Linked DNA regions of Homo sapiens. The protein of the gene in region 1 interacts with the protein of each later gene in a pairwise test. Each region holds a gene or a part of one and is shown on either strand. Other genes may lie near its edges. The genes, in order: TGFBR2, IDH1, RAPSN and ATXN1.

The links.
Region 2: the proteins of TGFBR2 (region 1) and IDH1 interact in binary tests that used the Homo sapiens proteins (3 or more experiments, as listed by UniProt).
Region 3: the proteins of TGFBR2 (region 1) and RAPSN interact in binary tests that used the Homo sapiens proteins (3 or more experiments, as listed by UniProt).
Region 4: the proteins of TGFBR2 (region 1) and ATXN1 interact in binary tests that used the Homo sapiens proteins (3 or more experiments, as listed by UniProt).

Annotation. Positions count from the first base shown.
Region 1 is NC_000003.12:30,601,439-30,610,116, reverse strand, and holds the start of TGFBR2 (TGF-beta receptor type-2 isoform B precursor), read right to left. Parts: upstream 3,234-8,678; coding exon 3,140-3,233; exon of another isoform or gene 1-3,139. Other genes in the region: translation initiation factor IF-2-like, read left to right, coding at 3,193-3,633. UniProt on the Homo sapiens protein: Transmembrane serine/threonine kinase forming with the TGF-beta type I serine/threonine kinase receptor, TGFBR1, the non-promiscuous receptor for the TGF-beta cytokines TGFB1, TGFB2 and TGFB3.
Region 2 is NC_000002.12:208,251,936-208,259,752, forward strand, and holds the start of IDH1 (isocitrate dehydrogenase [NADP] cytoplasmic), read right to left. Parts: upstream 3,137-7,817; 5' UTR 3,004-3,136; intron 2,524-3,003; exon of another isoform or gene 2,408-2,523; intron 2,369-2,407; exon of another isoform or gene 2,096-2,368; intron 2,025-2,095; 5' UTR 1,951-2,024; intron 1-1,950. UniProt on the Homo sapiens protein: Catalyzes the NADP(+)-dependent oxidative decarboxylation of isocitrate (D-threo-isocitrate) to 2-ketoglutarate (2-oxoglutarate), which is required by other enzymes such as the phytanoyl-CoA dioxygenase.
Region 3 is NC_000011.10:47,438,759-47,446,551, forward strand, and holds part of RAPSN (43 kDa receptor-associated protein of the synapse), read right to left. Parts: intron 4,057-7,793; coding exon 3,898-4,056; intron 3,164-3,897; coding exon 3,065-3,163; intron 2,976-3,064; coding exon 2,853-2,975; intron 2,540-2,852; coding exon of another isoform or gene 2,455-2,539; coding exon 2,401-2,454; intron 1,309-2,400; exon of another isoform or gene 1,248-1,308; intron 310-1,247; coding exon of another isoform or gene 174-309; coding exon 1-173. UniProt on the Homo sapiens protein: Postsynaptic protein required for clustering of nicotinic acetylcholine receptors (nAChRs) at the neuromuscular junction. It may link the receptor to the underlying postsynaptic cytoskeleton, possibly by direct association with actin or spectrin.
Region 4 is NC_000006.12:16,298,612-16,304,253, forward strand, and holds the end of ATXN1 (ataxin-1), read right to left. Parts: 3' UTR 501-5,642; downstream 1-500. UniProt on the Homo sapiens protein: Chromatin-binding factor that repress Notch signaling in the absence of Notch intracellular domain by acting as a CBF1 corepressor. Binds to the HEY promoter and might assist, along with NCOR2, RBPJ-mediated repression. Binds RNA in vitro.

The DNA.
Region 1 (8,678 bases):
GGTTGAAAAGGTAGAAGAAAAAATGCCCAGTTTTTGCAATGATATCAGAGGTGCCTTATTGATCCAGAGTTAAAAACTAACCTTACTGAAAAAATTAAAAAGTCATGTTCATAACTGAGTAGAAAACATGTAGTAGTTATGTTGACTACATAGACAACAGTCATCATTAGGGAATGCTACATTGAAAAGAAGGCAATGAGTTCAAAATGTGATTAGTATTTTGTATAAATCATAACTCATTAAAAATAAGATGTTGAGTGGCCTAAAGGTGGAAATGTGTTTTTATGAGGCGGAAAAAAAGCACGAGTAGACTGAAGATCAGATTTGGGGCCTAATGATGTCTAGTCTCTTACCCTGACAAAATAAGCAGGTTATTAAAGTGATGTGAAGAACCTGATCACTATGACACTTTTACAAATTCTTTGTCCTCAATAAGAATCTATCTACTTCCAGGAACCTGAAAAGTCATATTTTTCAGACCTGAAGAGTTATTGTGCACTTTACAGTTTTCCCCAAAAGAGTCATTTCTTAATTTTGATCATTTAGGAAGAGTGAATCTATTAAGTCAAAAACGAAGAAAAAAAAACTTTCTATTTCTTAGTGAAATTTGTTCTTTTATTTAAATCCTTTGCATACTACTAAACAGAAGTACAGAAGCTACTAAACAGAAGACAGATTTTTGGGCCTTTTTAGGTGACGTAAAAGGAGCTTGTTGTTTATTAAACAATCTCATTACCTGATATATTATCTTGCATTAAGATATTTTGAAAAAATGTTTTCAGTTTACCAATTACGTTAGAGAAATTCTGAAACTATTTACTTACATGAAAAATTAAAATGTAAGTAGAATTAGGTTTCTCGTCTTCAATATATCTGTCTTCAACCATTGGCCAACTTTGAAAATTTAATTTGAATCAAATGAATACAAATTCAAAATGATTCATTAATTCAACCATTTTGAAACTTCAGTTCTATAAAAATATGAAATCTGTGGGCCTTGTAAAACTGTCTAAATACCCAAATAAAAAGCCACCACGTTTTTAAGCTAATTGTTTAAAAGTGTGTATATTGATGAAATGAAAGTGACTCGTGAACTATTGGGTCTGGAATTTGCAAATCATAAACCTTATCCTTGTAAACAGAACCTAACTAACAACATCAGGGCCTGCTAATTTCCTTCTTTTATAATCTGGAACAAAAGTTGTAATGATTTTTAACATCCACAGAAAATTAAGGGTGCCATTTTAAATATTTATTAGCAAAATGTCACTTAGGTTTTAAAAGTCTGGAGGAAAATGAGAGACAATTGAACATTCTGGTACTGCAATGCAGGAAAAACGCCAAGAACGAAACACTAAGATTTTATTAAAACCATAGGACTCAAATGTGTGTCAAGACTTTTTGCTTGCAATAGTGCCTCTTCCTAATTTGATTAAAAGCTTCCATCTCCATGCCACCTTCAATGTATGCCATAATTTTTAAAAAGTTCCCAATCCACTTCAAACACTCTAAAATTTACAACTGACCGTGATGCGCATTTTTTCTAGACAAACCTAAAGGTAAATCTGCCCATGTCCCTGGATAAATAAAATGAGTGCCTCCGGGTGATGTGGACTGTCAACTCCTCTACATTTCATCCAAAGTCTACATGGGTCATCTCCAAGTCACCAGAAGAGCCAGGGGAAAGGAGGGGAGGGGCACGATACGTAAGATGTTAAACATGAAGATGATGTAAAATTACCCAGATTCAAGCTGGCCATTTTACAGATGAGGAAACTAAGGCCCAGAAAAAGCTCTATGACTTGCCCAAATACTCGGTTACCCAGACCACAGCTGCAGATACTGTTATTTGGATCATAGCTGCAAAAAGTCTAACTTTTGGCCGGGCGCGGTGGCTCACGCCTGTAATCCCAGCACTTTGGGAGGCCAAGGTGGGCGGATCACGAGGTCAAGAGATCGAGACCACCCTGGCCAATATGGTGAAACCCCGTCTCTACTAAAAATACAAAAATTAGCTGGGCGTGGTGGCACGCGCCTGTAATCCCAGCTACTCGGGAGGCTAAGGCAGGAGAATCGCTTGAACCCAGAGGCAAAGTTGCAGTGAGCCGAGATTGCGCCACTGCACTCCAGCCTGGTGACAGAGCGAGACTCCGTCTCCAAAAAAAAAAAATCTAACTTTTGAAGTCTCAGAGGTTTTACACTTTCCATAACAAATAGTTAAGAACCCCCATTCCTGCATGCATATATATATTAATATTATATATATTTATATATATAATTATATATATATTTATATATATATAATATATATATATATTTTTTTATTTTTATTTTTTCCTTAAAAACCTTCAGAGACAGCGATCAGGTGGGTAGCCTAGTTAGGATTTTAACCCTTCGGTTTCCAACAAACGATAATTGCATAGAACCATCAACTCCCTGAAGACAGGACTATCTTGTTCCAGGCAAAATCTACAGCCTCTAGCACCCAGTAGGCATTCAGTGAGGGATTCTCGGTTTCACCTGAGCATCTCCACTCCCTATCCATCCATGCCAAGGCGTCAGTGGAGCCAGCTAACTTTCTTTTGGAAATCGATTATTTTCTTGAAACTTGTTTCCAAAAACTCCGGGCCAAGAAGCCGGCCTGAGGGAAAGCGTGGCCGTCTCCAGGAGCTAAGGACTGAGGAGCTGGCCTTTTGAACGGGTGGCTCAGAAAGAGCTGGGTGGGCACGCGGCATCGCCATGGGCGGAGTGGCCCAGGTGCGCTGGCTGCTTTGGCAGCTCAGGCTGCCGCTCCGGGCCGCTGCTCCCCGGCCGCCTTCAGATAACCAACTTCTCAAACTTCCCTTTCCGGGGGTGGGGGCTCGCCTCGAACGCGGCCAACACAACGCCTTTCCTGCTCGCACAAAGGGGACCAAACGTGCCCCGCGCCCCTTGCAACTGAACTTTCCTTCTCTTTTTCAAGAAAAACTCACAATCCCTGCAGCTACGGGAGTCGGGCTGCGTGAGTGTCGCGGGGGAAACTTTCCTCGTTTCCGCCCGGGGGCCGGGTTGCCGGGCCCGACTGTCAAGCGCAGCGGAGAGGCGGGGACCCCAGGAAGACCCCCGGCGCCCCGCCGAGCCCGGGCTGGGGACCACTCACCCGACTTCTGAACGTGCGGTGGGATCGTGCTGGCGATACGCGTCCACAGGACGATGTGCAGCGGCCACAGGCCCCTGAGCAGCCCCCGACCCATGGCAGACCCCGCTGCTCGTCATAGACCGAGCCCCCAGCGCAGCGGACGGCGCCTTCCCGGACCCCTGGCTGCGCCTCCGCGCCGCGCCCTCTCCGGACCCCGCGCCGGGCCGGCAGCGCAGATGTGCGGGCCAGATGTGGCGCCCGCTCGCCAGCCAGGAGGGGGCCTGGAGGCCGGCGAGGCGCGGGGAGGCCCCCGGCGGCCGAGGGAAGCTGCACAGGAGTCCGGCTCCTGTCCCGAGCGGGTGCACGCGCGGGGGTGTCGTCGCTCCGTGCGCGCGAGTGACTCACTCAACTTCAACTCAGCGCTGCGGGGGAAACAGGAAACTCCTCGCCAACAGCTGGGCAGGACCTCTCTCCGCCCGAGAGCCTTCTCCCTCTCCTCGACGTCCAGCCCCTAGCTCTCTCGTAGCTGCCAATCATGTTTCCTAGACCAGCCCCTCCGAGAGCTTTGGCCGACTTTCAGCTGCCCCTCACCGCCCTCCCACACCACTCAGGAGTTCCTCGCTCCAAGTATTTACTCAAGAATGACTAAGTGCACACAGTTCACAAAGTAACAACAGAAAACGTCCACGTTTTCCCTAGTAGATCAGAACATCTGCCGCCTCCCCTCAGCTTTCTTCAGATTGCTCCTAGGTGCTTTAGAGATGCGTTTTCAAATTGCAAGTTGAGATCCAGGAGTGAATACTCCAATCTATTGAGTCGCGAGCACATTTCTTTCCCAAATAAAATAGTAACGGTAAATTCTACTTCATTAAATTTGTGCTTCAGTTGTGTCTATATGCATGTATGTATGTGCATACACTGTCAAGTTGTAAAATGTTTTTCTTTAGGTCGAAGTCTAGAGGTTTTTCTCAAGTTTTAATGTACATATTGATCACCTGGAAATCTTATTTAAAAATGCAGATTCTAATTCAGTAGGTCTAGGAGGCAGGCAGAGATTCTGCATTTCTAATGAGCACCTGGATAGAGCGTCCCATTTTGCACCGCCTCTTCCCGGGACTGAGTCAGTGAGTAATTGTAAATGATCACCTATCACGAAGTGATAGTGGTGGGAAATGTAATTTTCAGAATGTATAGAGTATAGCAGAAACTGTAAAATTAAAAGTGGGTTGGGAGTCACCTGAATGCTTGTGCTTTTATTCCCTTAATGCAGGTGAAGAAAGAGAATACTTACCCTCTCATGTGCAAACGGGGTAACATGGGAGCAGAACAGTATAAACTTTCAAATTTCCTTTCTTGCTAGGGCAACCAGATTTGCCCAAGACATTCCTGGTGTACATGTTTTGTAGTTTAAATATTAATAGAACCCCCTTTCTCTTTCAGATATGTCCTGATTGGATAATAAACTATGTGATCAACCTACTTCCCACTCTCAAAGATATGATTCTGTACAGCCCTCTGGTCAGTAGATCTTCTAGCAATTCATTTAATGAATTCCTTTACCTGAGAGGAAGATTGCAGAGGCAAGGGTTTGTGCCAGGGTCTCCAGGGAATAAAGGTAAATAGCCCTCCCCCAAACCCAACTCCCAAATCTTTCCTGTCATTCTAAGTGTTCATTTGCTTCATCCTGGAATTTTAACTCATGCTCCACCTAGCACCCAAGCTGCCTCTGGATGTTTTGCCACTTCCCAGTACTCATGTTGAAGATGCAGAAAGTGCAGTGAAATCAGGAGGGCTAGGCATCTTCTTTCCCACCAATTAATTGCCTTGCCAAAGCTGGAGTGACTTTGTCAATGGAGGAAGATTGAGTTCCAAATCTTCTCCCTATTCCCTCTTCTGCCACCAGCCCATGCCACTGCCATGGCTTGTGTAGGAGTCTCCCACGAGTCACCCTCAGCCACGGCCGTTCTGGGCTCTTTCACTCAGTTTCTCAAACGAGAGCTGAATTCAGCTTTTCAAAATACAAAACTAGTTATACCAACCCTCTGATTAAAATCATTTAATGGCTTCCCACTGCTCTTGAGATAAAGAGAAGATAAAAACCAGATCCTTGAACGTGTCTTCAAGCCTCCAACTCTCCCGTAAACTTTCATTTGGCTTCTCCTTGCTTACTGAAAGCCTTCTCCAAATTTCGTGAATATGCCTCTGTAATCCTCCTACCCTTTATGCTTAGAGCCTTCCCCAGTGTGGACTTCCTTCCTCTGACCTTTTTTTCTTCACCCAGCCAACTCCTGGTCTTCGTGGATTGAATCATAACTTCTTTGATGGGCAAGCTTTCCCTCACCTCCATGAGTAGATCTTGTATTACACGTTCTCTTGGCACCATATGCTTTTCTTTTAACAGCTGTAACTTTATAATTATTTGTGTCATTCTTTAATTTATATTTCTATCCTCCACTCAACTCCAAATTTCTTGAGGGCAGGTATTATGTATCTTTCCCTCCACTTACTATTGTGTCCCTAAGCATCAAACACATAATCGATGTTTAATAAATATTTGTTGGATGAATGAATGAATCAGGCAATAAAGATTTAGAAGAAAATTGTATTTGATTGTTCTAGTTGCTTCATAACTCTGGAGAAAACATTGTTACCGAATATTTGAGATATAAACAGACTACATTTTAGCCGAGAATGATGTCACCACTACTTCCTTTTCTTAAGAATGGAGAAGTATGTGGGTTTCTTTCTTCTTCTTTTTTTTTTCCTACATTTGCCCAAGTTCCTCCAGATAGCAAACATGTACTTTCTTTCTCCTGAAAACACAATGTGGCAAATAAATGTCCAATAGATTCCAAAAGCTTTGTTTTCCTTAATTATCACAAAGATGTTTTACATTGTTGGAGGCTAGATATTTAAATCTATGGTGGAATGTTTAACTGGTGGTCTTTGCCATGATACATCATTAATGTTGATTTTAATTTTGTTTGCCCTTAACATTTCTGATTTAATCTCCAGTCTCCTGTGAAATTGAGAAGAATCAGAATTCAGCATTGCCAAGTGCAAGCTAGCCTTTTGAAAATCATCATAATAAAAATAATAGATGTGTAAACTCATGCATATTGCAATTTGATAATTTTAAAAATTCATCAGGCTGAGTGCAGTGGTCCACACCTGTAATCCCAGCACTTTGGGAGGTCTAGATGGGAGGATTACTTGAGCCCAGGAGTTCGAGACCAGCCTAAGCAACATAGTGAGATTTCATCTTTACTAAAAAAAAAAAAAAAAAAAAAAAAGCCAGGCATGTTGGCATGTATCTATAGTGCCAACTACTCAGGAGGCTGAGGTGGGAGAATCACTTGAGCCCAGGAGACGAACGCTGCAGTGAGCCATGATTGTGCCACTGCACTTCAGCCTAGAAGACAGAATGAGACCCTGTCTCAAAAACAAAAAATAAATAAAAGAAAAAGAAAAAAAAATTGTCATGATGCCCTTCCTTTTGAAATTCTTGTTGAAAGGGATGTCTGATACCCTTAATCAAGACATCATTTTCACACATAGTTGTATATTTGGCTTAGTATAATATTTTGTGTATTCACATAAGCAGTTAATATATACATGTAAAAAACTGGGCCATTTGCAAATGGGAACAAAAAAATAATAGCCCGACTCAGGGTTTAAAAAACAAGGAAGGTAACGTTTAAGCCCTTAATGAGTTGAAAAACAATAAATATCAACTTGAACAGAAATTTTAAAAGCTGACAATCTATTTTACCAGCTTTTTAAACTCTGCACGCACACACAAACACACACAATTGAACTGAATCAAATTGTGGTTTATTTAAACGTTGGGTTTCTCAGTTGTGATGAGAGAAGAACTTCCTACTCCCCTGAGCTTTGTGACATGCAGCTGTTGAGGTTACTGTCAGCTAGAGCAGTTAACAGGGAGATTCCTCTCCTTATAAATTAACCAGCCTCATTCTCAGCTCTTATCTCTTGACCAATTTTCCTTTTATTGTGAAGCAAACCAATAAGCACTGAGACTGTAGTTAATTTGTGAGGGTCATCCACCCTTTGTGGGTCATCCATGATGCTACCTCCTCCAGGAAATATTTTGTGATGCTTCACCTACTGTGATCACTCCTTTCCCAGGGATAACCCAGGGAACATTTCGTTTATTTAGCCTTTTTTTAAAAAAAAATGTTTGCCCCATTCTAACATGGAGTACATTATTGTTATTTATTTGCTTTTTAGAATTCTACCCTAATGATTGTAAAGCCCTTAAAAGCACAAAATATTCCTTTTTCAATGTAGAACCACACTCCGTGCTCTACAGATAATCAGTATTCAGTGTGTGTTTCTTGTCTTCAATAGAGAGAAAAATAAGAATATCAGTTTTCCTAATCCATTCTCTTGTTTGCAGTTCTTCACAGATATTAATAGAACCTGCAATTATGCCACATGTTTACAGAAAGCATCAATAGTATGTTTTGAAAAAAATAACTTTTTGAAAATTACAAGGGTAATACGTGTTAATTATAGGTAGGAAATTTAGATTTTTTTTTTAAAGGCAGACTTTAAAAGGATTCTTAACCCTATTATCCAAAGATAATCCTTGTTAAATTTTGGAGCATGTCCTTGCAGTACTATTCTAATCTTCCCTTTACAAATGAAGAATTTGAGGATTAAAGAGATTAAGTATTTGACAAAGGTCACATAGCTAGTAAAAGACAGAGCCCAGATTTGAACTTAGTCCTGTCTAGTTCCAGACTTGTTCTACACTCTAGAACAAATTGATCAGGTGGTTGATCTTCGCCACCTGACCAGTGAAGGATTTCAGGAAATGCCACTCCAAAATATGCTGCTTTGGTATACTGATTATTTTCAGTTGAAGGCACTTAAAGACCAGCAAATGCAGGGAGGAGGAGAGACATGTGGAACAGATGTGGACCAACCTCCTGATTGAATCTAAGCCAGACCTCCATCAGCCAATCTCAAGCCTACCTCTAGCCAATCCATATGAGTCTGAGTAAGAATAAGTAAATGCCGTTTAAGGAAAAATTTGGGTTGGTTTGTTATCCAGAATTTTTGAGGCAATAGCTAAGAGATATAAGGGATGTGAAGGGTGAGGAATCACGGAAAAGCAAGGTTAAATAATTTGCAGGTGGTAAAACTACAAAGGGGTTCTTATAGACAAAAACTATCATGAGGTTTGTTATGGGGGCTGAAGATGAGGAAGACAGTAGGACTCCAATTTAGACTTTTAGGATCATCTACAAATTAAATTGTACATACAGTTAAAGAATATGGGCCGGGCATGCTGGCTTATGCCTGTAATTCCAGCACTTTGGGAGGCCGAGGCAGGCAGATCATGAGGTCAGGATTTCGAGACCAGCCTGACCAACATTGTGAAACCCTGTCTCTACTAAAAATACGAAAATTAGCTGAGCGTGGTGGCACACACCTGTAATCCCAGCTACTTGGGAGGCTAACGCAGGAGAATCGCTTGAACACGGGAGGTGGAGCTTGCAGTGAGCCAAGATCACGCCATTGCACTCTAGCC
Region 2 (7,817 bases), on another chromosome or scaffold:
ATTATTCTCAACTACTGGTTTGTCTTAAGAAATGAGATTATTTCCACAATCTCATGTTTATTGAACACTTCAGTCCAACTCATCATTTTACTGGGCTCTCAAGATGTCCAGAATGGTGAGTGCTAGCATTTCTCCTCCTTTAAGAGGCTGTTTTTGTTATTTAATAAAAATAACTAGCCATGAGGAGATTCAGCTGGTTCCTGTGACCCATATTCAGGGAAACTTTAAGTCTAAAAGCGAGACGAAGAATTCCTGGTGGAACTGTTTTCCTAGAGATAACACAGACATTGGAGATGTGGGGCTAAATACAACAAAGTGATTTCTCAATTAGAAGAATCTCTATACAGTAGGGCCACTGCCCAGGACCCAAGCATGTCCCTGTCATCTTCTTCTGGCTGTTCACAGGCAAGGGTAAGCTGCTAGTGAGTGGGATAGGACAAACTGTGCATTGTCCTAGGAAGACAGCACTTTAAGGATAGGGTGTGGGGGTAGCATATACAAATCAATCTGATTCTCAGAAAGTGCAAGGTTGGACGCTTTGGAAGAAATGAAACTGTCCCAGCTTGTCCCTAGAGGCAGAAGAAGCTCTGAGCCTGCTAAAAGTTATCTATTCCTTCTAATGATGCTCTAATCGAAACTCTTTTTTAATCCAACAACACAGCTGCAAATTGCTTTTATTCTCTTAAGGACTAAAAAAGTCAAGAGAATTGACTTTAAAGAATTATTAGATAAGAAGCCTAAAATAGTCTTTCTTGAAAAATTGAGCTAAAGTAATTTGGTCTTTAAATAAAAATGTAATGATTAGTAGACAGTAAGCGTCTGTTTCTTGACAAGCCTGGATGTATTTCCAATCCCCAGGCCCATTTTCACTTCCCAAATTCGCAATTCTAGAATTCTTCTTACTAGTGTTTAGGAGATTCCTTTGGGGGAACCTTCTGGAACTGAACTAGACTAAAAGAAATGAACAGAATGGTGTGGATGAGTCAATTACTTCCCATTTGTAATGTCAAGTATAATTTGTAGTACAGCTGAAAGCATATGATTCAGTTCATGTTTGATTCCACTGTCACACCTATCCTTGTTTTAAAACAAAGCAAAAAAGGAGGCAGTGAACTTATCTGGTTCCTGATAATACACTTCCATGGCCATGTCCCTATATAGTATGATGCAACAGTCATGACATGGCAATTTATTCTTGATGGCAAATACAGTTAATAGAGGTCAAATATTGTACCTAAAATGTGAAGACTGATATCTTTTTAGTTCACTATTTCCTTCTCAGTTAAAGCAACTGTACTCTCTGCAGTAATCTTTCTTTATCTCATAATGCATACTTCAGACGCTTCAGGTTTTCCTCACATTACTTAGCCATGAAATTTTTACCATCTTTTAACTAAAACAGTGAAGCTTTATTGTTACTACCATGTGGAACATAATTGTATTTCTTCTGGATCTGATTTCCATGGGATGGGCTTGAGGCCCCACTGGACTGACTTCTCCACCTTTGTTGCCCCTCAGATTTTGTCTCCAACCCAATCCCAACTTCAGAAGGAAGGGCTGTTCCAAGACCAGCAGGCACCAGCTCATATGAAGTAGCTGAATCCTATCTCCTAACATAATTGTGCAATTCCAGAAAATAAACCTGGAATAACAATACAGAGTAGTTTAATGAAAAAAAAGAGCCATTTAATATTATTTTCATCAACCTCAAGTTTTTGGCCAGATTGTTTTTTGCCGAGTTCATGAACTACAATAATTTCTGGGCAAAAAGGATCTCTTGCAGATAAGACACTGTATTAAAAGAAACAAGGAAGCTGTTGGAATTCGTTGTTGGAAATATTCCTCACTCATTCCCTTGCAGTGCCTCGGCCTGCCCCCAAGACCAGTTAAACACTGTACTGCCACATCAAAGAAAGTACAGAAGAAGGGGGAAAATTTGCTAATTCTCACCTTGACAGTGAATAGATTTCTTATCACCCCAGTTCCTCCCAGTCTTGCAGACTCAACTGAATGTAGTTTATCGCCTAAAACAAAACAAGGAATAAAAGTGTTAACATACAGAACACTCACAGGAGAATTTAGCTGTTTTTAGTACCTGCCAGACAGCCCAGTTTATCCGGTTTAAAGTACAGTGCTGAGTGTACTCGGTGGGACAAAGGCCAATTTTAGGCCCGCAGGCACTTTCCAAATAAAGGTCATGGGAGCACAATTTATCTCTGCGTGTGCGAGGGCGTGCCCCCGCTTCGCCGCCCGTTAGCAGGTCTTGGGGTTTGCATGTCCTTGCTCTTGGCCTGCACCCGTCCTTATGGCCGTTGTGCAAGAGGGCTGCAATCAAGGCTGGATCGGTACCTCCTTCCAGGTCTCCACGCCCGCCCCTCCCCTCCCCTCCCCTCGCTGGTGCTGGGACCTTTTAAACTCCAGGCACCCGGAACTGGCGGGGGTGTTTCCCCCAGCCCCCTCTCGCCCCGTGTGGCCTAGCGACCCCTCTGAAGGCCGCTGGAGCTCCGCCCCTCCACGCCCCCTGGCGGACGCGAGGGATCGGCTTCAAGGCTATTCCTCGCCGCCTGAGTTGCCTGCAGACGCCCGTCTGCGGCTTACAGCCTTCTTTGCATCCAGCCCCCAGCTGCTGCACGTTTTCTTCCTCCTACACTCCAGGCTTAGTCTTCTACATGCATTCTTGCAACTTCCACCCCTCGATTTTCCAACCCAAGTGCAGACCTGATTTTCCCCTTGTCGTTGCATCCAACTTCCTCACCGCCCAGTTTCTCCCTCCCAGGCCCAAAAGCAGACCTTCTGCATATCCAAGCATCCAGCATCCCCTCCTTCCCTTTTCTTTTCCCATTCTCAATACCTGGATTTGTTCCCTTCTTTGCACGCAGGCCTTGACTCCCTCCACACCCAAGATCTGCGCTTTTTTCCTTTACCCCATTCCTGCCTTCTGCGGAATTAGAGCCACCCCTCCACAGCCAGGGACCGGGGCCGCCCCTTGGAGCCTGAGGTTACCTGCCGGGATGATATGCTGGCGAAGAGTTGGGGCGCCACAGCCGCTCACAAGCTCAGACTCACAACCACAGCCTGGCAATCCCAAACCGGACTCCCAGTGCCTCCGCTTCTGAAGTAGACTCTGCAGAAACCCGGGACCACAGGGTAGGTCCGAGCTTTTCCTCTTCCCGGCTTTGTCCCCTCCCAGGCCCCGCCTCCTCAGCCCACCTCCCCCAGCCCCGCCCCCGACACGCCTCCAATCGCCACACGCCAATTCCCGTGGGATGGGCGGAGTCAGCGAGAGGGGCGTGGCCACAGTCAAAGATGGAGAATCCATGGTGCCACTTTCCCGGTGATCCCGGTGGGGGAAGGGGTTGCCGCCCGGCAGAGATTCAGTCCCGAATCCCGACAGCGAAGAGACTTGTATGCCACCTGCAGGCCGGGGAGCGGGGCGCGCTGGGGCTGCACCACCCCGAACTTTGTAACAATCTAGAGCACCACAGAGTGTTTCCAGGTCGGCACAAAAGCGAACGGGACAGGGCGCCCTGGGCGGCGGCAGCTTGGCCGGCCCGCTGCCTAGCGCGCCCCCGAGGGGCGGTAATGGAACGTACCTTTGGCTGAAGAAAGAGTGCTCCCGGCCAGCGCGGGGTCGCCTAGGGGGTTCCGCGCTGCCTAATGCAAAGGATGGAAAAGTTACAGAAGCAGGTCCTGACACCACCTATGTCTAGGTCTTTAGAAACTCCATTGATTGTTTGCATTAGAAGATAATGAATGGGATTCTTATTATTTTCTTTTTTAAGACAGGGCCTTGCTCTGTTGCCCTGGCTGGAGTGCAGTGGAGCGATCACCGCTCACTGCAGCCTTGACTTCCTGGGCTCAAGAGATCCTCCCACCTCAGCCTTCCGAGTAGCTGGGATTACAGGTGCACACAATCACACTCAACTAATTTTTCTTTCTTTCTTTTCTTTTCTTTTTCCTTTGGTAGAGATGGGTTTCAGCAGCCCAGGCTGGTCTCGAACTCCTGGACTCAAGTGATTGGCCCTCCTCGGCCTCCCAAAGTCCTGGGATTACAAGCGTGAGCCACCATGCTCAGTTGGCGGGGGATTATCTGTGATCCAATGAAGTTGGACTAGAGATGTGAAGCCTTAGAAAACGGTGGATTGAAAAAAGAATTTTAGTCTCCTCCAGAGATTATATTTTGTGTGTTCATTGCTCTCAAAAACATGAAAATAAAGAGTATTTTATATTGTGATTTGTAGGACAATAGCATGCTTGTATATTGCTGCCCAGAATTTAATGCTCCAATATTTATTTATTTATTTATTTATTTATGAGACAGAGTCTTGCCCTGACAGGCTGGTGCAGTCTCGGCTCACTGCAACTTCCGCCTCCTGGGTTCAAGTGATTCTCCTCTTTCAGCTTCCCAAGTAACTGGGACTACAGGTGTGCCACCATGCTAAGCTAATTTTTGTATTTAGTAGAGACGGTGTTGCACCATGTTGGCCAGGTTGGTCTCGAACTCCTGACCTCAAGTGATCCGCCTGCCTCGGCCTCCCAAAGTGCTGGAATTACAGGCGTGAGCCACCGTGCCCAGCCTCCAAAATTTATTTTAAAAAATTATCTCTAACATTGAATTAGTACATTATTCTTTGAAGATAAACTGATCTACGTGGTACTACTCAAGGTGCACTTTGGACACCAGAGGGCACTGGTATTTTTCCCGAGAGAAAAGAAAAAAGCATACACCTTGTCAACTTGGTTTTTGAGGTGGCTTAAGGGATATTGGCAGCCACCTCCATTTATTCCTGTAGAACTGTTTAGAGAGGTATATGAGCTTTTTGAAGGGGGTCTGACCCTCCACACCTGTGGGTATTTCTCATCAGGTGGAGCCGAGAGACTGAGAAAAGAAATAAGACACAGAGACAAAGTATATAGAAAGAACAGTGGGCCCAGGAGACTGGCGCTCAATGTGCAAGGACCCGCACCAGCGCTGGTCTCTGAGTTCCCTCAGTATTTATTGATCACTATTTTTACTATCTTGGCGAGGGGAGTGTGGCAGGGCAACAGGGTGATGGTGGGGAGAAGGTCAGCAGGAAACATGTGAGCAAAGGAATCTGTATCATGAATAAGTTCAAGGAAAGGTACTACGCCTGGATGTACACATAGGCTAGATTTATGTTTCACTTTACACAAACATCTCAGTGTAGCAAAGAGTAACAGAGCAGTATTGCTGCCAGCATATCTCGCCTCCAGCCACAGGGCGGTTTTCTCCTATCTCAGAATAGAACGAATGGTCAGCTTTACACTGAGACATTCCATTCCCAGGGACGAGCAGGAGACAGAAACCTTCCTCTTAACTGCAAAGAGGCCTCCCTCTTTCACTACTCCTCCTCAGCACAGACCCTTCACGGGTGTCAGGCTGGGGGATGTAAGGCCTTTCCTTTCCCACAAGGCCATATCTCAGGCTGTCTCAGTTGCGGGAAAGCTTGGACAATACCCAGGCTTTCTTGGGCAGAGGTCCCTGCGGCTTTCCACAGTGCATTGTGTCCCTGGTTAACAGAGAATGGAGAATGGTGATGACTTTTACTAGGCATACTGCCTGCAAACATACTGTTAATAAGGCACATCCTGCACAGCCCCAAATCCATTAAACCTTGATTCAATACAGCACATGTTTCTGTGAGCACAGGGTTGGGGCTAAAGTTACAGATTAACAGCATCTCAAAGCAGAATAATTGTTCTTAGTACAGATCACAATGGACTTTCTTATGTCTTCCATTTCTACATAGACACAGTAACAATCTGATCTCCCTTTCTTTTCTCCACTCTTAATTTTCATCTTGAATCTGATGCCCTAAGACACCTGAGACTGTAATTACTTTATATTATATCAGGTTCACATTGCTTATTACCCCTTTCTCCCTACCGAAAGTAAGCATTCATATCCTTTCTTGTTCCCAAAATAATGTAGGGCAGCCATAAAAACACATCAAATATAGCACAATAAAAACATTGACTATAATTGAGAAAAATAAGGTTAAAAAATGAATAGCTATAGGATGTTATATAGAACCAAGGCAAATTCAATCATCAAACATGTTATATCAAATCCTAAACACTTGCTAGAGATGGCTGCAAATTTGGCTTTAAGCCAATGTACTAGTAAAGGTGGCAGTTATTGGAGTCTCAGCATCTAAAACAGTGTTTCCTAAGCCAGTAATGGAGGAGTTGATTTTCCACTGAAAAATCTGGCTGGGTGCAGTGGCTCAAGTCTGTGATCTCAGCACTTCGGGAGGCCAAGGCAGGAGGATTGCTTGAGGCTAGGAGTTTGCAACCAGCCTGGGCAACATAGGGAGACCCTCTTTATACAAAACAAACAAACAAACAAACAAACAAAAATTAGACAGGCAAGCTTGCGCCTATAGTTCTACCTACCTGGGAGGCTTAAGTGGGAGGATCACTTGAGCCCAAGAATTCGAGGCTGCAGGCTCCAGTGAGCTATAATTGCACCACTGCACTCTAACTGGGGCAACCAAGCGAGATCCTATCTCTTAAAAAAATTATTTTTCAGATCCCTAGGATTGACATTAAAATATTGCTATAAATATGCATAAAACTAGATATATGCTCCTTAGGCTGACAGCTCATACAACTGTAAAATAAAAAAATTTATAGATAAAATGACTAGAAAGAAAAGTAGAAAACAATACATCACCATTAATATCACTTAAATACAACAAATAACATTTAGCTGAAATTAAATTACTTCTTGAAATGGGAAGATGAAGTTCACTGGTTATGTGCAGGTTCTTTTTTTTTTTTTTTTTGAGACAGAGTCTCGCTCTGTCACCCAGGCTGGAGTGCAGTGGCGCAATCTCAGCTCACTGCAAGCTCCACCTCTCGGGTTCACGCCATTCTCCCGCCTCAGCCTCCCGAGTAGCTGGGACTACAGGCACCCACCACCACGCCTGGCTAATTTTGTTTTTGTATTTTTAGTAGAGATGGGGTTTCACCATGTGAGCCAGGATGGTCTCGATCTCCTGACCTCGTGATCCACCAGTGTTGGCCTACCAAAGTGCTGGGATTACAGGCGTGAGCCACCGCACCTGGCCATGTGCACGTTCTTTTTTACATAGCCGGCCTATTTTACTGGATGACATATGATGGTTCATTTAGCCCAGCACCCCTCTCTATTTGGTTAATATTTCATGTGTTGACATCATTTGTCTTTCATTTAGCCAGTAAAAGAATCTGAGTATTTTAATAGTCTGGCCCCAAATACTGTTATAAACACAAATGGAAACACAGGCCATGAAATTTCTGTAAGCATTTGGTTTTGACACACTCATCCAGATAATGGGATTCTCATAAATATTCTAATGTGGTTGTATTTTCATTTTGATTATCGAAAAAAAACTGAGGTAGAATGAATAGAGCTTGGTCATTGATTGTCCATGAAGATTATGAGAGAGAGAACGGCAAAAGGGAATTCTGAATTTGGAGTTTGGGAGACAAGGTGCAGTTCAACAAAGAAGGAATATACATAGAGTCACAGATCTGATGGCCAAGATCATGGGTTAAGTTTAAGGTTTCTTAACTTTGCGATGCCATGGGACAGCAAGATGATGTCCAGGAGGCAGTTGGCCTCATCTGCAGTTCAGAAAGGGTGGGCTGGAGAAAGAAATTTGGGAATCTTTAGCATGTCTTGATAACAGTTGAAGACAGAGTATATATTATCTAGGACTTCAAAGTAAGGAGAAAAGTCAATCTCAGTGAGAACTCTGAGGGACACTTACGTCTTAAAGGTCAGGTAGAGGAAAAGGAGCCCCCACAAA
Region 3 (7,793 bases), on another chromosome or scaffold:
AGGGCCTGCAGCCGGCTGTTCTTCTCGCCTATGGACTCGCCGCACAGGCCGCAGTAGAGCTCCGTCTCCTCCACGCACTCGTGGAACCTCACAACGTGCGCCCGCAGTTCCCGCTGCAGCCCTTTGCTGCGGTAAATGCTCTCGCTCAGACAGTGCAGCTTGAGCTGGCTCAGCTGGGGCCCGCAGGAGTGGAGAGCGCCAGTGGGGGATGAGAACAAAGTCAGTGCAGGTAGGCTCCGGTCTCAGCCACTTCCCTGTCTTGCTGATGGACCTTGGAAAAATGTCCTGCCCTCTCTGGGACCTTGCTTCCTTTCATGCAGAATGAGGCGGTGGGTGAGATCAGAAGACTTCACCCCCCAGAACTGCCTGGAGACCCCATGTTTTTGACAGATTTTATGACCAAACCTGGTGCACAGACTCCATAATAATTTGCGGCAGGGCGCCGTGGCTCATGCCTGTAATCCCAGCACTTGGGGAGGCCGAGGCAGGTGGATCACCTGAGGCCAGGAGTTCGAGACCAGCCTGGCCAACATGGCGAAACCCCATCTCTACTAAAAATACAAAAATTAGCCGGGGGTGGTGGTGAGTGCCTGTAATCCCTGCTACTCAGGAGACTGAGGCAGGAGAATCGCTTGAACCCAGGAGGCGGAGGTTGCAGTAAGCCGAAATCGCACCACTGCACTCCAGCCTGGGCTCTAATAGTGAAACTCCGTCTCAAAAAAAAATAATAATTAATCTGCTTTCCTGTTTTTATTAATTAAATATACACACAATAGCTCATCAGCATTTCTGATCAGCCTGATACCCAGGTAAACCAGAGTGGCTATAATCCAACCAAATTTTGGCATTTTGGTTGGACTGTGCACAGGATCTCGTAGAAATGCACATCTGGAAGGCTTTGAGAAGTGGTGAACCTGTTTTCAAGATTTTAAGGTTTTAATAAGATTATGACGATTTTTTTTTTTTTTTTTTTAGATGGAGTCTTGCTCTGTCACCCAGGCTGGAGTACAGTGGCACAATCTTGGTTCATGGCAACCTCCACCTCCCGGGTTCAAGTGATTCTCCTGCCTCAGCCTCCCAAGCAGCTGGGATTACAGGCGTGCACTACCACACCTGGCTAATTTTTGTATTTTTAGTAGAGACAGAGTTTCACCATGTTGGTCAGGCTGATCTCAGGTGATCTGCCCACCTCGGCCTCCCAAAATGCAGGTGTGAGCCACCGCACCCGGCCTTGGTTTTGGTTTTTAGGCCATGCTAATCTTCTCTGTATTGTTCCAATTTCAGAATATGGGCTGCCAAAGCAAGCACTAGATACCATTATTAAATTTGGAACATGGGCTTTGTAGTTAAAACAGACAAGTTAGTAGGTGTGGGACCTTGGACGCCTCTTTGAGCCTCACTTTTCCTCATCTGTAAAATGGGGCTTGCTGTACTCACCTCACAGGGAGAGAGTGAGGACTGGACCCAGTACCCATAAGGACCCTGTGTGTGCTCAGTGCTCAGGGAGTGGAGGCCACTGTTAGTTTTTGTTTGTTTTGAGATAAGGTCTCACTCTGTTACCCAGGCTGGAGTGCAGTGGAGCAATCACAGCTCACTGCAGCCTTGACCTCCTGGGCTCAAGCTATCCTCCCACCTCAGCCTCCCAAGTAGTTGGGACCTCAGGTGTGTGCCACAACAGCTGGCTAATTTTAAAACATTTTTTGTAGAGGCCGGGCCTGGTGGCTCATGCCTGTAATCCCAGCACTTTGGGAGGCCGAGGCAGGTGGATCACCTGAGGTCAGGAGTTTCAGACAAGCCTGGCCAACGCAGTGAATCCCCATCTCTATAAAAAATACAAAAATTAGCCCAGTGTGGTGGCGGGTGCCTATAATCCCAGCTACTCAGGAGGCTGAAGCAGGAGAATCACTTCAACCTGGGAGGCAGAGGTTGCAGTAAGCTGGGATCGCGCTATTGCACTCCAGCCTGGGAGACAAGAGCAAAACTCAATCTCAAAAATGTTTTTTTCTTTTCTTTTCTTTTCTTTTTTAGAGCATGGGTCTCATTATGTAGCCCAGGCTGCTCTCGAACTTCTGGGCTCAAGTGATCCTCCTACCTCGGCCTCCCAAAATTCTAGGATTATAGATGTGAGCCACCATGTCCAGCCCACTGTTAGGGGTTTTAATCAACATCAGGAAGCTTCTGAGGAATTCTGCTATCCTCCAAGCTATGAAACTTCTGCCCTGCCCTCAGAAGTGCTGTGTGTGTGGCAGAGAAAGAGCCAGAGTATGGGGTTGGCTGCAGGCAGCTCCCAGCATCAGGAAGGGCTCATGACGTGAGTAGGCTCAGGAAGGCCCTTCCCCAGACCCAAGTTCCCCACTTGGGCCCTTGACCCCAGATCCAGGACACAGAATCAAGTCTGACCTTGTTCCCCACCTCCTCGGCCAGATCCTGGGCTCTCTCGATGGCATCCAGAGCCTGGAAGGTGAGCATAGGCCAGGGCTGCGGGCAGAGCTGTCTGACAGGCCTTGCTCACAGGGAAGCACAGGGTAGGGGGGCAGGCCTAGGGAGGGTGACATGGCAGCTGCCTTGTGTGTGAAGGCAGCAGGAAGAGACTAGGGCACAGTCATAGGGGCTGTGTGGGCAAGTGACCTCCTGCCTCAGTTTACCCAGGGTTCCAGCCCTTTACTAGCTGTGGGTCCTAGGGCAAGTGATGGGCCTTCTCTGAGCCTGGAAAATGACCAGGAATGTCCTGGCCTCGTAGGATCAGGGTGAGGCTGACGTCAGACAAAGTGGCTGAAAGAGCCGGCTAACCTACTGGCCCCAAGTGGGGAGTGCTGGGAGGGCTGGAGGCTGTGGGAAAGGCCCGACCTCACCTTGTCCAGCGCCTTCCTGGCCACCCAGCACTTGGCCACACCCAGCAGCGCCTGCACCTGCCCCAGGCGGTTTCCGATCTCGGTCATGATGCTCATGGCGGAGTCGTACCTGGGGAAGGCTGTCTGCAGAGCCAGGTGGGGGATGGAATCAGGCTGTATCAGGCCTGTGCCCCTGCCCCCTGCCCCCAGCCCCTGCATCCCGGTGACCTCACCTCCAGGTCCCCACGGCTCCGGTGGATGTCAGCGAAGCAGAGCAGGCAGAGCGCCTGCAGTGGCCGGTCCCCGTGCTGCAGCGCGATCTTCATAGACTCCTGCGAGGGAGGCCAGTGGCTCAGGCCTACTCCTCTGCCACCACCACTGGAGTGCCCTCCCCTCAACAGACCCCTCTGAAGGGACAGCCCAGGGAAGCAACATCCTCAGAGCCTAGTGAATCTATCATGGTGCTGAGGGCTCACACACTGAACCACTGAAGTCACAGCACCCAGCAAGGTGGGTGGAAAGTGAGGCTCAAAGAGAAGTGACTTGATTGGGGTCACCCAGTAAGTGACAAAGCTGGGATGTGAACCCAGGTCAGTGGGACTCCAGAAACTGGCCCTCTTCCGTCTCTACCCTTCAAAGTACCCCATATAGGGTGTTGGGGCAGAAGGAAGCCCCCTCCCCTGCAGATGGATTGGAAGGGAGTGGGTTTGGGATGAGGCTGGGGGACAAATGTTTCCTTCAGGGGTTCAGCTGTAGAGAACTCATCTCATTTAAAAAATAAAAACTGGGCCAGGCACAAGTGGCTCATGCCTGGAATCCCAGCACTTTGGGAGGCCAAGACACGAGGATCGCTTCAGCACAGGAGGGTGGTTTAGTGAGACCCCGTCTCTACAAAAATAAAATTAGCTGTGCATGGTGGTGCACGCCTTTAGAGAGGCTGGGCCAGAGGCAAGCCCTAGGGGGCTTCCATGGGCTGATTTGGAAGAAGGAAGCCCTGCTGTCCCAGGCCCCAGCCCCTGGCCCACACCACCTCATCCCCGACCTGCCCCCTTCCCCGCTGCCCCACCTCACAACACTCCATGGCACTGCCCAGGCGGCCCAGCAGGCGATAGGCCACGGCCATGTGGTACTGGCTCATGGCCCGGTACTTCAGGCTCCAGCCTTTGCCATAGTTGTTGACAAGCTCTGCCGCCTTGCAGGGGAAGAACAGGGCTTTCTCGTAGTCCTGCAGGGGACATGGAATGGAAGGAGGCAAACTGAGTGGCAGAGGCTGCCCCAAGTCAAGGGCTCCTGGGCTAGGTTTCTCTAACAGCAGGTAGGGGCAGGGGGCCCGAGTGTCTGCTCATTCATTGTGACATCCAGGACAAGAGTGGCCCGGTAGAGGGAACAGCCAGTGCAAAGGTGTCGCTCTGTGGACTCAGGGATTCTCATCTGGTTTGTGACGCATCCCAAGAGCCTAGCACAGTTCTTGGCACTTGGTAGATGCACAATAAATATTTGTTGAGTGAATGAATGAAAAGACAAGAAAACACAGTTGGCTTCTCTTTTCTCCCAATGCCAAATGGGCTCCTCAGCTTCAGAGATGCACAGGGATGGGAGATACCAGATCCCTCCACTAGAGCTTGCCTGCTGGCACCCGGAAGCAGGTGTTCACTGAAGCTCAGTGGCAGACTGGCAGCACAACAGGCTCAAAAGAACATCAGACAGACTCAGCGAGGCGATGCAACCATTGGCTTGTACTTTTTCCTCAAGCTTCCAAATGCATTTTCTACCTGCTCATGGTCAGCTGATGACCTCGCCTCAACTCCACGAGGAAAAGGAAGAAAATCAGGGAGAAGCTCCTTCCCCTCCTGTCTCCACCAGATCTCCCATCTCCGCACCTCTGCTCCCACGCTCCCTGCCTCCTTTCCTGTCACTGTGGAGGATGGCTCCTGTTCCCATCAAATGCCAGCCTCCGATGAGCAGTCTCTGCATCGTCAGGTCCTCTCTTTCTACAGAATCTTTCCCATCCACGTGCAAACATGTCTGGCATTTCTCATCTCATTTAAAAAATAAAAACTGGGCCAGGCACAGTGGTTCACGCCTGGAATCCCAGCACTTTGGGAGGCCAAGACAGGAGGAACGCTTGAGCATAGGAGTTGGAGAATGGCCTGGGCAACTTAGTGAGACCCTGTCTCTACAAAAATAAAATCAGCTGTGCATAGTGGTGCACGCCTGTAGTTCCAAGCTACTCAAGAGGCTGAGGTGGGAGAATCACTTGAGCACAGGAGGTCGAGGATATGGTGAGCTGAGATTGCACCACTGCACTCCAGCCTGGGTGACAGAGGCAGACTCTGTCTCACAAAAAAAAAAAAAAAAAAAAAAAAAAAAGAAAAGAAAAGAAAAGAAGGAAAGAAAAAAGAAAACTAACCCACCTTCTCGTGACGTCATTTCCCTTCAGCTAAAGCCCCATTTCACTGTTCTTTTTCAAGGTAAATCTATTTGATCTTTCACTTAATATTTAACAAGCAGCTCCAAGTTAACATGACCAAAAGAGAAGTGTCAATAACCCCCCCAAAAAACCCTTTTCCTAATATGCCTTATTACATACTTTTGAAGCCACATAAATGTTTTACAGATTAAAAAATTAAATTTAATTTGAAAAATACCTAAAAATAGAAAATGGAGGTCAGGTGCAATGGCTCATGTCTGTAATCCCAGCACTCGGGGAAGCTGAGTTGGGAGAACAGCTTGAGGCCAGGAGTTCAAGATCAGCCTGGGCAACATTGCAAGACCACTGTCTCTACAAAAAATTTAAAAATTAGCCAGATGTGGAAGAATGTGCCTGTAGTCCCAGCTACTCAGGAAGCTGAGGAGGGAGGATCGCTTGAACACAGGAGTTTTAGGTTACAGTGAACCGTGATTGAGCCACTGCACTCCATCCTGGGTGACAGAGCAAGATCCTGTCTCAAAAAAAAACAAAAACAAAAACAAAAACAAAAACCTAAGGCTGGGTGCAGTGGCTCACACCTGTAATCCCAGCACTTTGGGAGGCCAAGATGGGCAGATCATGAAGTCAGGAGATCGAGACCATCCTGGCTAATATGGTGAAACCCCATCTCCACTAAAATACAAAAAAACTAGCTAGGTGTGGTGACAAGTGCCTGTGGTCCCAGCTACTTGGGAGGCTGAGGCAGGAGAATCACTTGAATCTGGGAGACAGAGGTTGCAGTGAGCCGAGATCGCGCCACTGCACTCCAGCCTGGGCAACAGAGCAAGACACTGTCTCAAAAAAAAAAAAAAAAAAAAAAGTAAATAAATGTCCCTAACTGTGTGTCATATTACTACAACCACACACACAAATAATTATTTTGGCCGGGCGCAGTGGCTTATGCCTGTAATCCCAGCACTTTGGGAGGCCAAGGCGGGTGGACTACAAGGTCAAGAGATCCAGACCATCCTGGCTAACATGGTGAAACCCCGTCTCTACTAGAAATACACACACAAAAAAAATTAGCGGGGCGTGGTGGCAGGCGCCTGTAGTCCCAGCTACTCGGGAGGCTGAGGCAGGAGAATGGCGTGAACCCGGGAGGCGGAGGGTGCAGTGACCGAGATCGTGCCACTGCACTCCAGCCTGGGTGACAGAGTAAGACTCCGTCTCTAAAAAAAAATATATATATATTATTTCAATGACTTTGGAACAAAAGTACTCAGTTTACCCATAGTGGGATACATTACAAAAACAAGGCTGGGCACAGTGGCTCACACCGGTAATCCCAGCACTTTGGGAGGCTGAAGCGGGTGGATCACCAGGTCAAGAGATTGAGACCATCCTGGCCAACATGGTGAAACCCCGTCTCTACTAAAAATACAGAAAATTAGCTGGGCATAGTGGCGTGTGCCGGTAGTCCCAGCTACTCGGGAGGCTGAGCCAGGAGAATCGCTTGAACCCGGGAGGCAGAAGTGGCAGTGAGCCGAGATCGAGCCACTGCACTCCAGCCTAGGCAACAGAGCGAGACTGTCTCAAAAAAAAAAAAAAAAAAAAAAGCCAAAAGAACAGCAAAGAAATCTTAAACTTCATTCAGTTGTCTTTATTTTCTAGAGTAATATTGGTATTGTCTTTTGGAATTATTTTACGTATTTTGTAGGGTAAAGCAAATATTTAATTATGTGGTTAGAAACTAAGATTTTTCATCTAAGAGAAAAGACAATCAAGTTTAAAATAAGTTAAGGGGAGCTCCTGAAACATTAGATTTGAATTGGAAATGTCAGTATAAACTTCCATTATTCTGATAACTGAAAAGATTTAGAAGCACGGACATCCCACTAGCAATGAACACCCCACAAGCCCACACTTGGGCTTTTTTTTTTTTTCTCTCACACAGGGTCTTGCTCTGTTGCCCAGGCTGGAATGCAGTGGAACACTCATGGCTCACTGCAGCCTCAAACTCCTGGGCTCAAGCGATCCTCCCGCCTCAGCCTCCTGAGTAGCTGAAACAATAGGTGTGAGCCACCATGTCTGGTTCATTTTTAAAGTTTGGTGCAGATGGGGTCTTGCTATGCGACTCAAGCTGCTCTCAAACTCCTGGGCTCAAGCAATCCTTCTGCTTGGCCTCTCAAAGTGCTCAGATTATAGGCATGAGCCTTGCCAAATTAAAAAAAAAAAAAAACTGTTTGTAGACGCTGGTCTGGAACTCCTGGTCTTGAGCGATCCTCACCCCTCAGCTTCTCAAAGTGCTGGGATTACAAGTGTGAGCCACCAGGCCTAGCTTACTTTTCTTCAGAATTAAAAAGGTTTTTAAAAACCCCTGTCCTGCCCCAGTCCTATCTCATCTCACTGAATGGCTCCCCCTTACATCTGCTTCCTAAAAACAAAGTCCTGGCTGTCATCCTTGGTGACTCGTTTCCTCCCATCCCACCTTGGATCCATCAGCATTTATCCACTCACTAACTCCAAGATTTATTAAGCATCTACTGGGGCCA
Region 4 (5,642 bases), on another chromosome or scaffold:
GGCTCAAGCAGGCCTTGTGCCTCGGCCTCCCCAACTGTTGGGATTATGGGCGTGAGCCACTGTGCCCGGTCTGCTCGCTGAATTTCTAATGAGCTTGAATTACAGGAAGTAAAAATAAATTTTCCACTTACAGACCACTAACCAGTTTAGAGCAAATCTGTAAGGAGTGTATAGATTATGCCACACGAGCGCATGAAGCTACCACATGTTTAAAGACAAGTATACCTCTTGTGAACAGCAGTGTTCAGCTAGGAGGCATAAACATGAACTGAAGAAACCAAGACATCAGGTGTGGCTGTGTGCCTTTTATCTTAGAACCTCATCTCACACGTACTCTTCCCCCCAAAACATTAGCAGCGAAGGCAATGCCTCATGTCACACCTCCCTACCTCCGACCTACCCAGGGAGAACTCGTGAGCGGGGGTCAATAAGGAGGAGGAATTAGCACTCTTTTCCTGGCCTCTTCCTTGAGGACCCAACAGAAGGCAAAGACACACATCTGCAATTGGCACTGTTATTTTATTAGTACGAGTATACTGAAACAATAAACTTGTACTGGTATACAGACAATTTATTTAAAACAATTTTGTTCAAATTTTGAATCAAACATTGTTTTATTATAATAATGAAATAATTTCTACCTAGAAAACCTGCAAGCACCATCAAAGAAAGGGACCATAAAATTCAATAAACAGACTCGAGTGTATCCTACAAATAGACACACCACGATTAGAAAATAGAATATGAATTCTTCCATTTTTTAATATTTGTTTAAAAAAGCTAGTGCAAGTACAATATTTTACACTGGAATTACAGAGAGTATGCACGCATATGGAAAAAAGTTCTCCTGTCACAATAAAAGCTCTTAACTATTATGTATGCACTTAAAATTTTCTTTTCAATAAGGTGCAAAACATCATTCCTTCCCTAGTTCTCCTCTGTACTGGCCATGTCAGTCTGGTAGTGCCCTCAACCCAAGTTCTGGTGTCTGTTTTCCCTTGGCCTGTGGGAGGCATATGGTGGGTAATGATCTGATATTAAAACATCCAGTAGTACGAGTCTCAGAGATGGCTCTGGAGCCAGGACTCCACTGGCTGGAAATGAAGACTGTCTAATCTGAAGGTCACCACAAATACTGACAGGACTATCTTGAAACCTCCTTTCGGCTGACACTAATTTGGGTTTAGAGTTGAGCAGTTCAGGCTGGGGAGATGAGGAAACCCCGCCAAAAAGGGCAGTATTCACAGAACTGAATGCACAGGTATCAAGTTCAAATGCACTAACTAAAGGATTTACCCCACTCCTGGGCCAGAAAACTGAAAGAGTAGGTGGTTCCTGTAAGAACCAGAGAAAACCTGTGCACCGAGCTTCTTGGTAACTGCTCTGAAGACAACAGCTTGAGCTAGTGTCACCTAATACTTGGTATTCTGGAGGACAGTATGTTATCTTGGTAAGGATTACTGTAAACAACACTTCCAACGAAGGCCTTCAGATTGGCCACAGAAAAGGAGACAGGCTCATTGGCCATCCAGACAGCAAACAAACTAAAGGGAAAGAAAACGTGGGTGAAGCCTCCAATGTATCTGCAGTGGAAGACTTGAGTCCTTTCAGATAAGAAAAGTTATGGAAATTCTTAGAGATTGTTGTTATTGTATAGATACTACCTATTGGCCAAATGCACTTAATTTTAATACAGTTGAACCATTTGTATGCAAGTCATGGGGACATGAAAAACTGAAGCCGGTGTTCCCTCCCGCCATTACACAGGAGAAAGTTAGCTACCAGAACAGTTGCCTTCAACGAGAAGGGAGGGGACGAGATTCTGAATTTAAGAATTGTAAGTGGGGGTGCTTAATATCCCCACAGCTGTCCAGTTTCCACTGTCCGGCTTGATTTTTGGACAGGAATACTATTCTGAGAAGATGCTCCGTATTTATTCTGGCCTCTTTATATTAAATAAAAATCAAAATAAAACTAAAATAAAATGAGGCATTTACATTGAAATCATGTTTTTACTCCCCCCATTTAAATGAGGTGTGGGGGGAAAGAAGGTGAAATAATTTTTTTTTTTGTCCCCATAATGAGTCCTGTTTGATTGGTAGCCTGGATCCCTTGTTACAAACACTTCGTGTTCAAGATTATATTCTTTGGGTTTATAGGAACAGGAAGTGCTGAAAATGTCAAACATCATCTCTGAAGAAAAAGAAGTTGCAATGGCTTAAGAGTTTAGACTAAGAAGGGAGCTCAGAGAAGTACTTTCAGCATAGGAATGAACAGTATTCTCAAATCGCAGAATACCGAGTTCCCCTCCCTCAGACGAGGGCTATATGTAACAAAAATAACAATAAGCATAGGTATAGTTTAAGAGCCTTTTACGTAGTAATTCTTCCAGGCCATAACCATACAAATCTGATCATTTAGACATGACAAATTTCTATATACAAAAAAACATGTAACTTTCAACCCTTCTCTGCTTTTTTTTTTTTACAAACAAAGTATGAAACTCATTGTTTCAACAGAGCCATATCTTTCAAACACTGAATGAATCATTTCGACATTCATTTTTCTTTTGTGCAATTTTTTAAAACATTACCTGTACTCCTCAAAGTGAGTGCTTCAAAATTTTGTTTTCTTCAGCTTCTCAAATCAGGTGTACATTTAAAAAAAAATTCCCACAAGGTATAGTGCTACAAGAAAAGATCCTATCATCAGTAAGGTAACGTATTTGAAGCGAGGTCATCTATGTAAAAGAAATCTCAGCTCCGGAGTAGAGGTGTGCAAGTTGTTTGGAGTTTCCCTATGCCAGAAACACAACACTGTCCGTGGAAAAGAGAGGAAACCAACCCAACACAATAGCAGATGCATGTGCTTTATAAAAAAGTATATTCTCTGTATATTTATTACTTGATGTGTTCTTAAATTCTCTATTTCAGAAATTCTGGGTTAAAAACAAATGTGGAAGCAAAGGCCTCCACGCCACTTAAAAAAAAAAAAAGTGTAATTCTCTCCTTTCACATCACCACCGAAGAAACCGAATTGGGCCATGGAGTCTGCTGGCCCTGTTTTCACCTGGTGCAAATTGAAGTGCAAAGGGTTTCAGAAGGCAACAGACCAGTCTGTTGAGCTGCTTGTGGTTCATGAAACAGTAGCCATGACAACCAACACAGCTCAAGAAGCCCGGCCTTCGGTACCGAGAGCTCTGCTTCCTCACCCATATCTGAAATAGCACGGTATTAGTGTCTTCAAAAGCATTGGAGATTTTTCTCTCTATGAAAGAAATAGGTTTCCTTAGTAGTCACAGATGTTAAAGGGTATTGTCAATCGTTTCCTTAAAAAACAAAACAAAACAAAATCCAGAGCTACAACAACAAAAATAAATTTTGGCAACATATTTCAGTAAAGATCAAACTGTGCAAAGAGTGGATTTTATGATTACTAGGAGCTACTGTTCATCTTGAACATGCAGCATTATATTGCAATCTATGCGGTATCTAAGGAGTAATCCACAAGATGCAGGAAATCCAAACATTCCTTGAAATTGTACAACCCTACTCCAGAGCAGTCAAAGTGCTGCTTCTGGACACGTCAGTGTACCACACACACACCTGCCCCGTCCCTGAGAAAGAGGTGTGAAAGGTTCCGCAGAGTCCCTTTAGGGGAGAAGGAGGGATGCTGCCACTTCCTGGTGGGGGGAAAAAACCCAACACACTCACCTAACAGAAAACATAGAGGCTCACAATTCCAAGTTAGAAATGGGATCAACAACAACAGAAATCAAATCATCCCAAACTAAACTGGGTGAGTTAGGGAAAACGAAAAGTTGACCAACATAGAAAATTATCCTGAAAGTCCAAATGAAAATTCAATTTGGATTTCCACTTTAAAAGATCTGAGGTAAGTGGCATCCATCTCTGTATCCCTCCCTCCCCCCTCTGCCCCAGTGTGGCCCAGACAAACTGAAATAATTCTTAAGTTAAACATTCTAAGGAACAGTCATTTTATATATTTAGAAATCCCTAGAAAGAGAGGTTCTTGTTTGTTGGTTTCTTATTAATAGTATTATTTTTTTCTTTTCGCCCTGACTAATTTCTTGGTGATTGTGTTCCATTGTAAACGCAAAAGGCCTGCTGTTACTAGTTTAAAAATGGAAAACAGGAAAGAAAGAACAAAAGACGGCTGTCGGTAAATATTGCAAAGTGGACATAGTACAGAGGCACATGGCTGATCCTTGTAAGCTGAACGGCACCGAAGAATTTCTACCCCTGTCATCGTTAATGTTTGCTACACAGAAGCGGTGACAGAGGCTGCTCTGGGAGCCTCGGGGCCCGCCAACGTCTGCAAACAGGAGGCTCCTGCCCTCTGTGCGTTCTTCCTATTTGAAGAGAAAGCTGCCACAAGGGAGTGGTGACCGTGGGTGGCAGGTGGTCCCCTCCACAGCCACTGGCCAACACGCTCAGAACGCACACACACAACAGGCCACACTTCCCGTCCAGGCTCAGAGGCAGGGCTCCAAGTCTCAAGGACACAGACCCCGAGGAGGGGCCTGCCCACTTGCAGAAAAGACCGTGGAAAATGGGTTGACTCCAGGCTACATGGCTCCAGAGTGCGTCTTAGAAATGAATCTGCCTCCTTCCTCTCCACACTCCACATTCACTATTCCGTGTGGTGACAGGGGACACTGCGGTTCCTCCCCCGGGTCTCCTTGGCTGGCTCTTTCTGCAACGTGGCGGCAGACGCACGGGGCTCCTGAAGGCTCCCCGCCCCAGCACTCAGCATCCGCAGCAGGGGAAAGGTGGGAGGCTCTCTCCCTCCTGGCTCCTTCCCTCCAGCCCTGCTCTGGCCAGAATGGGGAAGATCAACCAAACAAGGAAAAAGCCAAAAGGGAATGAGCTTTAACTATATAGCACACTGGTCAGACTCTATTGGCACAGAAAGTATTGCACATGCTAAAAAAGCAAGAGAATGAAATGGGACAAGTGTTTAGAAAGAACCAATTATTTTATAATTCCTATACCTGAAATAGAACCACAAAAATTATGATGATGTTCCTATTGCTCCAAACCATGTGTGTTTTCCCATCTTAGTGTTGGTTTAGTGGATCCAGTCAATTCAATACTCGAAGTAAGCCAAAAGGTGGTGTGTGTTTTTCTGAGTCCACATGAGTTGTAAATAGTGATATTAATGAGAACAAAGTCTATGTGGCAGCCCGTATTCCTCTTACCATCAAAGGCTAAAAAACAAAAAGAAAAACAAAACCTAATAATTGCAAGTGCCCTGAGCAGAATATATGGAAGATTAAGCAAGTTCTCTGAACAGAAACGTTTAAAAAATACAGCACTAAATAAGCAGTATGACTGCAAGAATGAGCCCACCCAGCTCTCTGCAAGCATGCTGAGAGGGTAATGAAATTCGAGGAAAGTCAAGGAACTATTCTAGCTATTCTAAACCTATTCAAATGTTTTTGGTACACCCCAGAAAACGGTTTATAAAAATCATTAGTCCTGGTGAACCCTAAATGTAAATGAATACTAGACAGCCAAAATGTGGGTTGATACCAGATTTTTTTTTTAATTTGTGAAACGAAGAAAGTACTATTTTCAATGGGGTAAAAGAAAAGTCAGGTATTTGTTCAGTTTAGTTGC